Linked DNA regions of Homo sapiens: region 1 is linked to region 2. Evidence: fine-mapped QTL for protein levels in blood plasma. A gene starts in region 2. The other region holds a variant in brackets. All regions are shown on one strand. Distances are from middle to middle.

What was found. PIP is the chance, under the fine-mapping model, that this variant and not a neighbour inherited with it causes the effect. Protein levels are from antibody-based Olink assays in UK Biobank. Linkage for the fine-mapping came from a reference panel and not from the study's own genotypes, which makes the PIPs less certain.
Region 1: its variant is fine-mapped to the plasma level of the PTGDS protein (UK Biobank, PIP above 0.99).

What each region holds. Positions count from the first base shown.
Region 1 is chr9:137,236,196-137,238,499 of GRCh38, forward strand. SLC34A3 (solute carrier family 34 member 3) reads left to right here. Exons shown (of 13, transcript NM_001177316.2): 13 at 1-360. The coding sequence ends at 221. Among named protein-coding and RNA genes, the nearest start is that of TUBB4B, 3.9 kb to the right of the region's middle. RefSeq lists silencers at 168-497, 518-747. The variant GGGAGGGCTCT/G (reference allele first, on the strand shown) is at 261.
Region 2 is chr9:136,973,806-136,981,956 of GRCh38, forward strand. It overlaps PTGDS (prostaglandin D2 synthase), which reads left to right and starts at 3,699. Exons shown (of 7, transcript NM_000954.6): 1 at 3,699-3,887; 2 at 5,188-5,327; 3 at 5,418-5,494; 4 at 6,141-6,257; 5 at 6,378-6,479; 6 at 7,028-7,050; 7 at 7,774-7,937. The coding sequence starts at 3,774. The coding sequence ends at 7,050. It also overlaps LOC124902312. RefSeq lists an enhancer at 4,759-5,738.

The DNA of each region.
Region 1 (2,304 bases), 260 kb after region 2:
TCGTCATCCTGGTTACTGTCCTGCAGCGGCGCCGGCCGGCCTGGCTGCCTGTCCGCCTGCGCTCCTGGGCCTGGCTCCCCGTCTGGCTCCATTCTCTGGAGCCCTGGGACCGCCTGGTGACCCGCTGCTGCCCCTGCAACGTCTGCAGCCCCCCGAAGGCCACCACCAAAGAGGCCTACTGCTACGAGAACCCTGAGATCTTGGCCTCCCAGCAGTTGTGACGGGCAGTTGCTGAGCAGACCGCCCCACCCTCCCCGGCT[GGGAGGGCTCT/G]GGAGGGCCCTGGAGGGGGGGTCCCCGCGGCAGCTGACCTCCGGTCACCTGCTTCCCCTTCTGTGCAAATAAACCAGGCTGTTATCTGGGGTGGCGGTCCTCACTCCCCTAGACAGGGGCCGCCTGCGCAGGTGGGGGAAGCAGCCCGATGCTGCCTCCTGGTGGACACTCCGGGGCCTGGGGCTCAGGCACAGGAGCCCGCCCACCCCAAGGTGTGTTTCTCACGGCAGCCGCTGGGGACAGAAGCTCCCAAGGAATGGCGGGCCTGGGGGGGCGGGGACTTCCCACAGTGGGAGCTGGGGCCCCTCCTGGGGGCGCAGGGGAGAGCCCAGCCAGCAGGGAGCAGGGCCGGTGGTGCAGGGTGTGGGGGATCCCGGAGCTCCTCTGCCCCGGCGGATGTCATGGTTGGGGTGGGGACTGGAGTCCCATCAGGTGCGTGGGGTGTGAGAAGGGACCCTGACGGCTTGGAGGGCCAGGTGGTCCCAGAGGCACCACCTGTCTGTCTGCCCTCTGTGTCTCTCAGCCGGTCCTGGGCTGGGCCCCTCGGGGACACTTCTCTGCAGGGCTGGGCCACGGCAGGTGCTCAGCTCCCAGAACCCACCAGGAAGCCAGTCTCACCCGCCAGGCTGGGGCACACTGAGGCCTCCCACTGCCACGGAGAATGAGACCCTGTCCCGGGAAGGCCTGTCCGTGGGGTGGGCCCAGGAGGGCGGACAGCACCCATGGGGAGGACTTGGGGGCCAGGGGGCCCTCCCTCTGCTGTGTGGTCGGGTTTCCACACAGGAAGGCTTGTCTGCCAGCCAATGGGTAACTGGACACCTAGGAAGTTGAGGGGGGGCTCCTGCCACCTCTAGCCCAGAGCTGCCCACAGCCCTAACCCAACCCCCACTCCCGCCAAGGGAAGAAAGCCTTGGGTTACCCCAGAACTGGAGCATTCATTCAGGCACACAGAGACGGGTGGGTGAGGGGACGGTCCCATCAGGGACAGGTCTAGTTTGCTCATTTGAGTCTGCTGCTGTGGCCAGTCACGTTCTCCCTTCCAGAACTGCAGCCCTGTTGGGGGGCAGCTCTCTTCCCAGAGCCTCCCAGGATTGCCTGGTCAGACCCCACTAGGGGATAGAGGTGCAGCCACTCAGGAAGATGAGGCCTGAGGGGGCCCCACGGCCACTTCTCCTCTGTGGCTCTGTTCTTTTCTGCCCTCAGTTTCCCTTTGCCCCTGCTCATGACCCCCAGACCCTCTGTGCCCTTGGCCCCCAGTCTTCCCTGGGTCCTCTGCCCCAGCCACCCCTCAAACTCTTAGGCCTCCTGGGCCTTGGTTTCACCTACCGAGGGAGGTGACCACCTGCTCTGGGAGCCAGGGGTGCCTCAGGGGTGGGCTCCAGTGAGAATGGGACCCCCAGCAGCTAGAGCTTTGGTTCTCACAGCCCTGTGATTCTAGGACGCCCCTGTGGACCTGACATCAGCCTCATAGAACCGTCTGGCACCCCTGTAGGGGACAAGCCTGGCTAGCTCCCTGGGGAGCCTGAGGGGCCGGGGAGCTCCCCTGTCCTTTGGGGGGGGATCAGTGAGGCCCTTGTGGAGAGAGGGAGGAAGCACCCCATGCACCTGTCCTTCCAGGGCAGGTGAGGCCTCCCACAAAGGCTGGGCGTCTGGTCCTTTAAGGCAGCCAATACTGTCTGCCTGCTGTCCCTGCCTGGCGGTAACACACCCTCCCACTGGGACCATGGCCACCAGTAAACAGAGCCTTCGTTGTGGATCCTCCGACAGCTGCAGGAGGAGGAGGGCAGGTGCCCAGCACTCCCACAGCCACGCCTGCCCCGCTTCCCTGCCCTTCTGGCCCTCCTTGGACCACATCCTGCCTGGCCACAGACCCCAGGCCCAGGAGTTGGTCCTCCTGCCCCACACTATCCCGCCTCTCCATCCTGCAGCAGGGCACCTTGGCTCAGGGTGGGACCTACAGAGCCTTCCCCAACCAGTTTTGTGCAACAGGGGTGGCTGCTGTCCTTGTTGGGCTCAGGCCCAGGCTTCAGGGTG
Region 2 (8,151 bases):
GGGGGTTGGGCCGCCCCCTCCTCCCGGCCCTGCTACCTTTGGGATGCGGCAGCCTCTGACCAGCCTGCTGGACCCCACATTGGACAGATCGTTCAGCACCCCCAAATTGCCATCTGTCCCCCACAGACAGCCAGCCTAGCCCTGGCTCCAAAGCTGCAGAATTGGCTGAGGCTTGGCCATAACCGTCTTTGGACCCCATGGCCAGCAATGCACATATGAGCCTCAAGTCCCAGGGACATATCTGCTCCCCTATCCTCTGGCTTGTCCCGGGCTGCCCTGTCCTCTGCGCCGTCCCCGGCTGCTGGGCGGGCCTGACCTCCAGGGTGGTGCTGGGAGAGGTGGCCAGAGGCAGCCAGAAAGGGTGAGCGGAGAGGTGGCCGTCCCCCATGTCAGTGAACACCCAAACAGACAGGCACAGAGAGGAGGGCTGGGTGAAGAGTGGGTCCCATGTGCTTTGAGCAGCTCAGAGATGCCCTGAGGAGGGGCTGTCCCACGTGGCCCGTCCACTCAGGCCTCCTTCAATCACAGAGCAGCTCCCTTGACGCAGGGAGGCCTTGGGGAGAATTTCTTGCCCCTAGAGGAGCCCTGAGCTGCCCCCACCGCACCCGGCCCTGGTCTCCCCGGCTACAATCTCAGGGGTGCTCCTGCTCTGCCCCTGACTTGTCCAGAACACTCCACAGCGTCTCAGTGATCCCGGGCACTGCCCTTCCCTATGGAAGATCCTCAGCGGGGCAGCTCTGGCAGGAGTGAGCCTCTGGGGCCGTGAGGCTTGGGTACCTCTGAAAGGTGGGGTGTAGAGGCTGCCCCTCCCCAGTCCCAGGCTGGGGGAGTTGATCCCAGGCTGCAGGTGGGTGGGGCTCACGAGGTCCCCATGAGTTTATTTGAGGCTGGTGGACACTCAGTCGAGCTCAGCTCCCACCAGTCACTGGGACAGCCTCGGCCCTCAAGGGCAAACCATTGGTGGGGATGCTGGACAGGGTCATCACTGCCCCCGGAGGATGCTGGCCGGGGCCCCAGGGTGGAGACAGCTTCCCTCCAGGAAAAGGTTGGGGTCAGTTCTGGGAGCTTAGGCCCAGGCCACCAGGCTTGTCCATGACCTGCCTGGGCCGCAGGCAGGGGGATGGCCTTGGTGACCTCTTAGGGTGGAGGCCAAGTCTTTGCATTTTGTGACTCAAAGAGACTGGTTCCCAGAGAGCAGGGTGGGGCGGCCAGCCTTCTTCCTGCCCAGCCCTCCGCCAGGCTCCACTAAGGTCCTGCCTGGCAGCCAAGCTCAGAGCAAAGGGAAGGGCACAGAGAGTGTGCAGGGTGGTCCTTGTCCCTGCCCAAGCTGCAAGAGGCTCTGCGAAGGTCCCTCCTGCCCCTGTCCACCTTGCACAGTCCTAGCCGGGGGAGGAGGGGAGAAATCTGGCGTGCCAGGAGCTGGCAACTGCCCAGCCCTTCCTGGATGTGGTGAGAGATGAATCTCCAGCCCTCGGGTGGGCCCAGGTGCACCCATGAATCAGGGCTCGTGGGCAGCTCCCACTCACTGGTCCTCACTCAGCCGTGTCTGGGGAGTGTCTCTGACCACCTGCTGGCCATCTTGACCACAGGGACTGAGGAGTCCGTCCTGAACCGAAGCATGATCCTGTTAGCTCTTCCAGCTCTCCAGGCGCCAACGACCATATGGTCTCGGTAACGACTGGTCAGGGAGGAGAAGGGACATGGGACCTGCTGGGCTTTCTGCAGCCCACTAGAAAATGGGGAAGAGGAGGGGCTTGGTCCCTGTTCCAGGCACTGGGTTTGAGGGCTGGACACCCGAGATCCCTGGGAACCCCTCTGGCTATGGGAGGACCCGGCCCCATCAGACTTCAGAGTCCCTCCCTGGCAGGTGACCCAGGCCTGCCCAGACGGAAGCCATTCAGACCCAGAGCCACGTGTCCTGGGTCTCCCTGCCCCGGGCCACCCGCCACCACACCCCAGAGCTTGCTCACCACCGGGAGGCGCTCTTGTCCTGGACCAGCCTAGCCTGGGTTGGGACCTCCAGCCAGGCCAGTCAGCGAGCCACCAGCCCCACCAGAGTGGAATGACAGCCAGGACTCAGCTGGCAGCGGGCAGGAGGCCAGTCTTGTGGTGATATCCCAGCCGCAACTCTCTTCCTGCCCCTCCCCTGTCCTGACGGCAGCCCCCAGCTCTGTAGCTGAGCCAGGCTTGCGGGCCACGCGGGGTCCCGGGTTTAGGCACCCCACCCCTATCTGTTCCAACAGACTCTCCCTCTCAGCCCATGGCACAGATGGCATCTGAGCTAGCAGCACGCTGCTGCTTCAGGCAGGGGTTGATAGGAGGTCCAGGTGGAGGAGTGGGTTCTCAGGACTGCCTTGGCCCCCCTGCACCGCTGCCCTCCTTCTCCCTGCCTCTCAGGTGCCTCCCGGCTCCCTGGGACTCACTCCCTCACCTTGGCCTCTGCCTGGGATGCTACCCGGCCACCCCCACCAGCCCTGACACCAGTGCTGCCCACTAGCCCCTGCTGCTACATAGGCATGCGCCTCCCCCAGTCTGGGCTCCTTGACCCCCGGGCACTGGGGAAGGGGAACAAGGAAGCAGTCCACACCAGCCCACTCCCAGGGCTCGTGCGCCCCCAGCAAGGGATGGGCCACAGAATCCAGGAAGAAGACGGGCTCCGGCCCCCAGTGGTCGCCAGCAGCCCCGTAGAAGCTCACCACCCCACCCCATCCGACTCACTCCTGCTCTCATGTACATTTCCCAGCTCCCCACCCGGGCTCACCTTCAGACCAGCGGCAGCGCTCACCCACCACGCCTGCCAGGGAAGCTCAGTCCCAACAGAATCCAGAGAGGGCCCACCACATGTGCCTGCCTGTGACGGCCTGTGACAGGGCCCCAGCCAGGGCCAACGAGCTGGAGGGGCCCAAGGAGCTGGGTGCAGCGCTGGGGTAACAGGACAGCCCCACGGGGTGCTCCCGAGTCTGGACCAGACTCGGGGTGGGGAGGCCCAGACTCGGCGGGGGGCAGACTTGGGGTGGGGGGATTGCTGGGGGAAGTTGGGGCCTCTGGCAAGGGATAGGGCCTGTGCTCAAGCCCAAAGGTGCCCCAGGCTGAAATGGGCACCCAGGGGTCACTATCAGAGCCCCAACAGCTGGCCATGGGGGAAGCCATGCCCAGCAAACCTGGCCCTCGGGACCCTGCGGGCCAGATCAAGTTTCTCTACCTTGGCCTGAGCTTCTCATCAACACTTCACTTGCTGGGCGTTTCAGGACCAAACTCTCAGGGTGGAAGTGGGGCTTGTGTCCCCTTCTGGGGTGGCAGGGCTCGGAAAGGGAATGATGGTAGGGGCTGTGAGATGTGGGTCCTGGCCCCCAGTGGGAAGTCACCAGAGGCCTCGGAGGCGGGCATGGCTGAGGAACACAGCCCCTGCCCTATCAGGGCCGCTGGGTTGGTGGGCCCTGCCAGCAGGAGGAGGGTGGGCAAGGTCCCTGCCAGCTCTGTCTCTGGGACCAGTGGGCAGGGGCCTCTGCCTCACCCCCACGCTGCCTCAGCTGGGGCAGCAGGCCCAGGCCTCTTGCATAAGCGCCCTGTGGGGGACGAGGCTGCAGCTGTGCCTGGCCACCCCATCCCCCAGCATCACGAGTGTTCAGTGGGCTGTCCCCGGGCCCTGGGTGGAGGCCAAGCCTGGCCCATAAATAGGGGTCTCCTCAGTGCCCTCCGCTCCTCCTGCACACCTCCCTCGCTCTCCCACACCACTGGCACCAGGCCCCGGACACCCGCTCTGCTGCAGGAGAATGGCTACTCATCACACACTGTGGATGGGACTGGCCCTGCTGGGGGTGCTGGGCGACCTGCAGGCAGCACCGGAGGCCCAGGTCTCCGTGCAGCCCAACTTCCAGCAGGACAAGGTGAGGGGCTTTCCTGCGTCATCCCCAAGGGCTACAGGACCCTGTCAGGGGAAGGGCACTTTCCGGCTGGGTCTTCCCCCTGGGAGGAGTGAGCGAAGTCCCGCAGTGCCGGGCAGTGCCGGCCAGGGACTGAGCGGGCGCGCAGGAAGGAGGCTGGGTAGCCGCCCGAGGAGGCTGCCCGCGAGAAGCCCTCCCTGGGCACCGCGTCCCGTCTCCCCTGATGGGCCACGCAGACACCGGGCCACACACGCGCCCACGCCAGCCAGACACGTCCACCCCTGTGGGCACGCGACCCCCAGAGGACACACGAGCGCACGTTCCACACCTGGGTGCCAGGACACGGGCGGGTGGGGCACAGGGATGGCGACAAACACTCCGTGCGCGGTGGGGGTTGGGAGGGACGCGCACCGCACAGACAGCCGGCGACGCGCGCTCTCGCCCGGGAGCTGCTCGGGGAAGCGCCGGAGCGCGGGTCCCCGCGCCGCGCGCCCCTCCCTGGCGTCGAGGAGAACCCCAGCGGTCCGCAGAGCTGAGCCGAAGACCCGCCCCGATCCCCGCCAGGAATGCGACGTCCTCTGCCGCCCGCTGTATGGGCCAGGCGCTCAGCCAGGGCACAGAATCGGGACCGGGGGCGGAGGGGCCGAAGCTGGCTGGTGGGCGGCGTGCGAGGGTGAGGGACTGTCCTCGGGAGGGGCGTGGCCAGACGGGGGTGCTGGGTGTCAGGGGCGTGGCCAGCTTCTGGGGCTGAGGCGTGAGGGGCGGGGCCATCTCCGGGGGAGGGGGAAGTGGGGCGTGGTCATCTCCTGGGGCGGGGCGTGAGGGGCGGGGCCACCTCCCGGGGCGGGGCGGGGGCCTGATGGGCGTGGTCAGCTCCTGGGGCGGGGACGTGAGGGGCGGGGTCAGCTCCTAGGGGGGCATGGGGCGTGAGGGGCGCGGTCAGTTCCCTGGTTGTGGACATGAAGGGCGGGGCCAGCTCTTGGGGCGGGGTCGTGAGGGGCGTGGTCAGCTCCTGGGGCGGGGATGTGAGGGGCGGGGTCATCTCCTGGGGCGGGGATGTGAGGGGCGTGGTCAGCTCCTGGGGCGGAGATGTGAGGGGCGGGGTCATCTCCTGGGGCGGGGATTGAGGGGCGGGGGTCAGTTCCTGGGGCGGGGCGTGAGGGGCGTGGCTGCTCGGGGGATTGGGCGTGGGGGCGGGGCCGGGTTGGAGACCGGAGGAGTAGACGGCAGAGGCGCCCCCGCAGGTAGGCGCAGGTGGGTCCGGAGGGTCCTGGCCGACGCGGGTGGGGGTCGCTCGCCGCAGTTCCTGGGGCGCTGGTTCAGCGCGGGCCTCGCCTCCAACTCGAGCTGGCTCCGGGAGAAGAAGGCGGCGTTGTCCATGTGCAAGTCTGTGGTGGCCCCTGCCACGGATGGTGGCCTCAACCTGACCTCCACCTTCCTCAGGTGGGACAGCGGGCAGGTGGGTTTCTGGGACGGAGAGGTCCAGGGACACCCTCGGGCCTAACCCCTGACCCTGAGGTCACCCACCTACAGGAAAAACCAGTGTGAGACCCGAACCATGCTGCTGCAGCCCGCGGGGTCCCTCGGCTCCTACAGCTACCGGAGTCCCCGTGAGTGGGGCCTCCACCGGCCCCCTGGGCCCAGCCTGGGGGCGACACTTGCCGGGACGACTCTGGGCCAGCCCCCTGCCGCGGAGATCCATGGGGTGGGAGGTGATGGCTGCCCCACCAGCGTCAGAGGCAAAGGCCAGGCCTGGGCGTGACTACCCATGCACAAGTGTTAGGGACAGAGAGACCCTTCCTCCAGGGGGTTGGATCCTCTCTGGAGCCCACCATTGTCTTGTCAGGCCCCTTCCCTGCCCTCTGGAGTTTTCCCCACATAAGCAGCCCCCCAAGGCCCCTCCATATGCCTCCTCCCAATTCTCCTCCCCAGGACCCAGGGGTTTCCTCACTCCCACCTGGGGAATGGCTCCCACGGGGAAACCTCTTCACTTCCGGTTCTGGCAGCGACTTCTGCGGCTGCACCAGGAATCCTGGTTTTCTGAGCCTGGCTCCCCCAGATTCTGGTTTGGGGACAGGGTTCACAGGCTGTGCAGGCGAGAGCAGGGCACTGGCTGGAGAGCAGCCGGGTGGGGGAGCATCCCGGGCCAGCCGAGGGGCTGAGTGCCCCCAAAGCCCACAGGTGCACCCCTTCCCTGAAGCAGAGGTGAGGTTTGGGGGGCTGAGTCCCCGACAGGGTTGTCTCTTGGGTTCCCAGACTGGGGCAGCACCTACTCCGTGTCAGTGGTGGAGACCGACTACGACCAGTACGCGCTGCTGTACAGCCAGGGCAGCAAGGGCCCTGGCGAGGACTTCCGCATGGCCACCCTCTACAGTACGTGCCCCGTGGACGCCGCCCACACGCAGGCCTGACCAGAGGGGGCTCCCCAAGACCCAGGGCAGGGCACACAGCATCCCCCCCGCTGAGGCCAGCTCCGTCTCCACCCTGTCCCAGGCCGAACCCAGACCCCCAGGGCTGAGTTAAAGGAGAAATTCACCGCCTTCTGCAAGGCCCAGGGCTTCACAGAGGATACCATTGTCTTCCTGCCCCAAACCGGTGAGGGGTCCTAATCTGATGGGGAGAGGATCAAGGTCAGATTAGAGGCAGGCAGGCAGTCTCCTGACTGGGGGAGGCAGAGGGGAGGAGGTGGCCCCGCCCTGCTCGAGGCCTGGGCCAGGGACAGAGGGGGTGAGTGTTCAAGTCAGAACCTCCCTCCCGCAGCCCCTTCATGAGGAGCCCCCTCCATGGGGGACATGGAGACCAGGCGCCCACTCTGTGCCAGGCCCCAGCAGCTCCCAGGATGTGGGGCTTCAGCCTGGTGGGGGGCATAGGGTAGAGGGTGCCCATGGGGGATACAGGGGAACCAACCATACTGGGCTCAGGCACAGCCTCCTAGGGGTGGACAGCCTGCTCTTGGCAGAGGTGGAGAAAGACCCTCTCTTTGTTTCCAGTGCCCAGGGAGAGGTGGGAGGTGATGGGGGATCTGTGCAGTTTGGGGGCTCAGTCAAGACGAGCTCTGCGTTACGGGAGGAACAGGAAGCCCAGTGGGAAAATTGGCCTAAGTCTGGGGTTCTGACGACAGCCCCTGGCTTCTTTCTTGGCAGATAAGTGCATGACGGAACAATAGGTGAGCCACTCCATTCATTCATTCATTCATTCATTCATTCATTCATTCAACACACATCCACCCAACCCACTCTGCGATGGGATGGATCAGGGCCCCAGGACAGCCTGGTGCTGCAGACCCATCCTTCCCGATGGCTGCAGTCCAGGGCCGGGCGGGAGACACTGGGGCTGCCCACATTGATGGGTGCACAGGTGTGAGGCTCAGAAGGAAAACCTGTCCCAGTGGCTGGAACAGGGCTGACTCCTGAAGGCTCATGGTTGGGGGGTGCAGGTGCGAGGCCCCAGGCAGACAAGGCCAAGGGGCTATACCACAGGGACCACCTGGCAGCAAGGGTGTCTGGCTCCTGGGCTAGGAGGAAACCAGGGTGGGGGAGACAGGATGGGAGGGAACAGGGGATGGAAGGGGAGGGCCAAGGACGCTACATGGATGCCGTGGGACAGCTCGGAGAGCAGGCTCAGGGCGGATTCACCCACCACCCCCAGGAGGGAGGCCTAGGCTGGAGCTGGAGTCTGTGGACCCTGGGGCTGGGAAGGGTGGAGTCTGTAGACCCTGGGGCAGCGGGGATCCAAGCCCCAGGGATGGATCTTGCTCTCTCAGCGGGGCTCAGTGGGGCTGGGGGCAGAGAAAAGTCCCCGTAGCCCGCACCTGCTCCATCGACTGGAGTGGAGGTGGGCTGGGGTAGACTGCAGTCCTCCATCCTAGCCTTTCGGTCACACCCCTCAGGACTCCCCAGGGCTGAAGCTGGGATCCCGGCCAGCCAGGTGACCCCCACGCTCTGGATGTCTCTGCTCTGTTCCTTCCCCGAGCCCCTGCCCCGGCTCCCCGCCAAAGCAACCCTGCCCACTCAGGCTTCATCCTGCACAATAAACTCCGGAAGCAAGTCAGTAGAGCTGGCTCCTGGCTGTCTGCGCTGTCATCACCCGTCCTGGGCCTGGCCCTGGCCACCCGGACCTCCCCCTCTAAAATCTCAGCCTGACGTCAACAAAGGAACAGGCCCTCTAGTGTTTGCTCCCAGTGGGGTCTTGAGTCAGGACAGCTAGGAGGGGGTGTCCCTCACTGTCTCCCACCCACCCCACACAGTCGTGTGCCCCTGCCCCACAG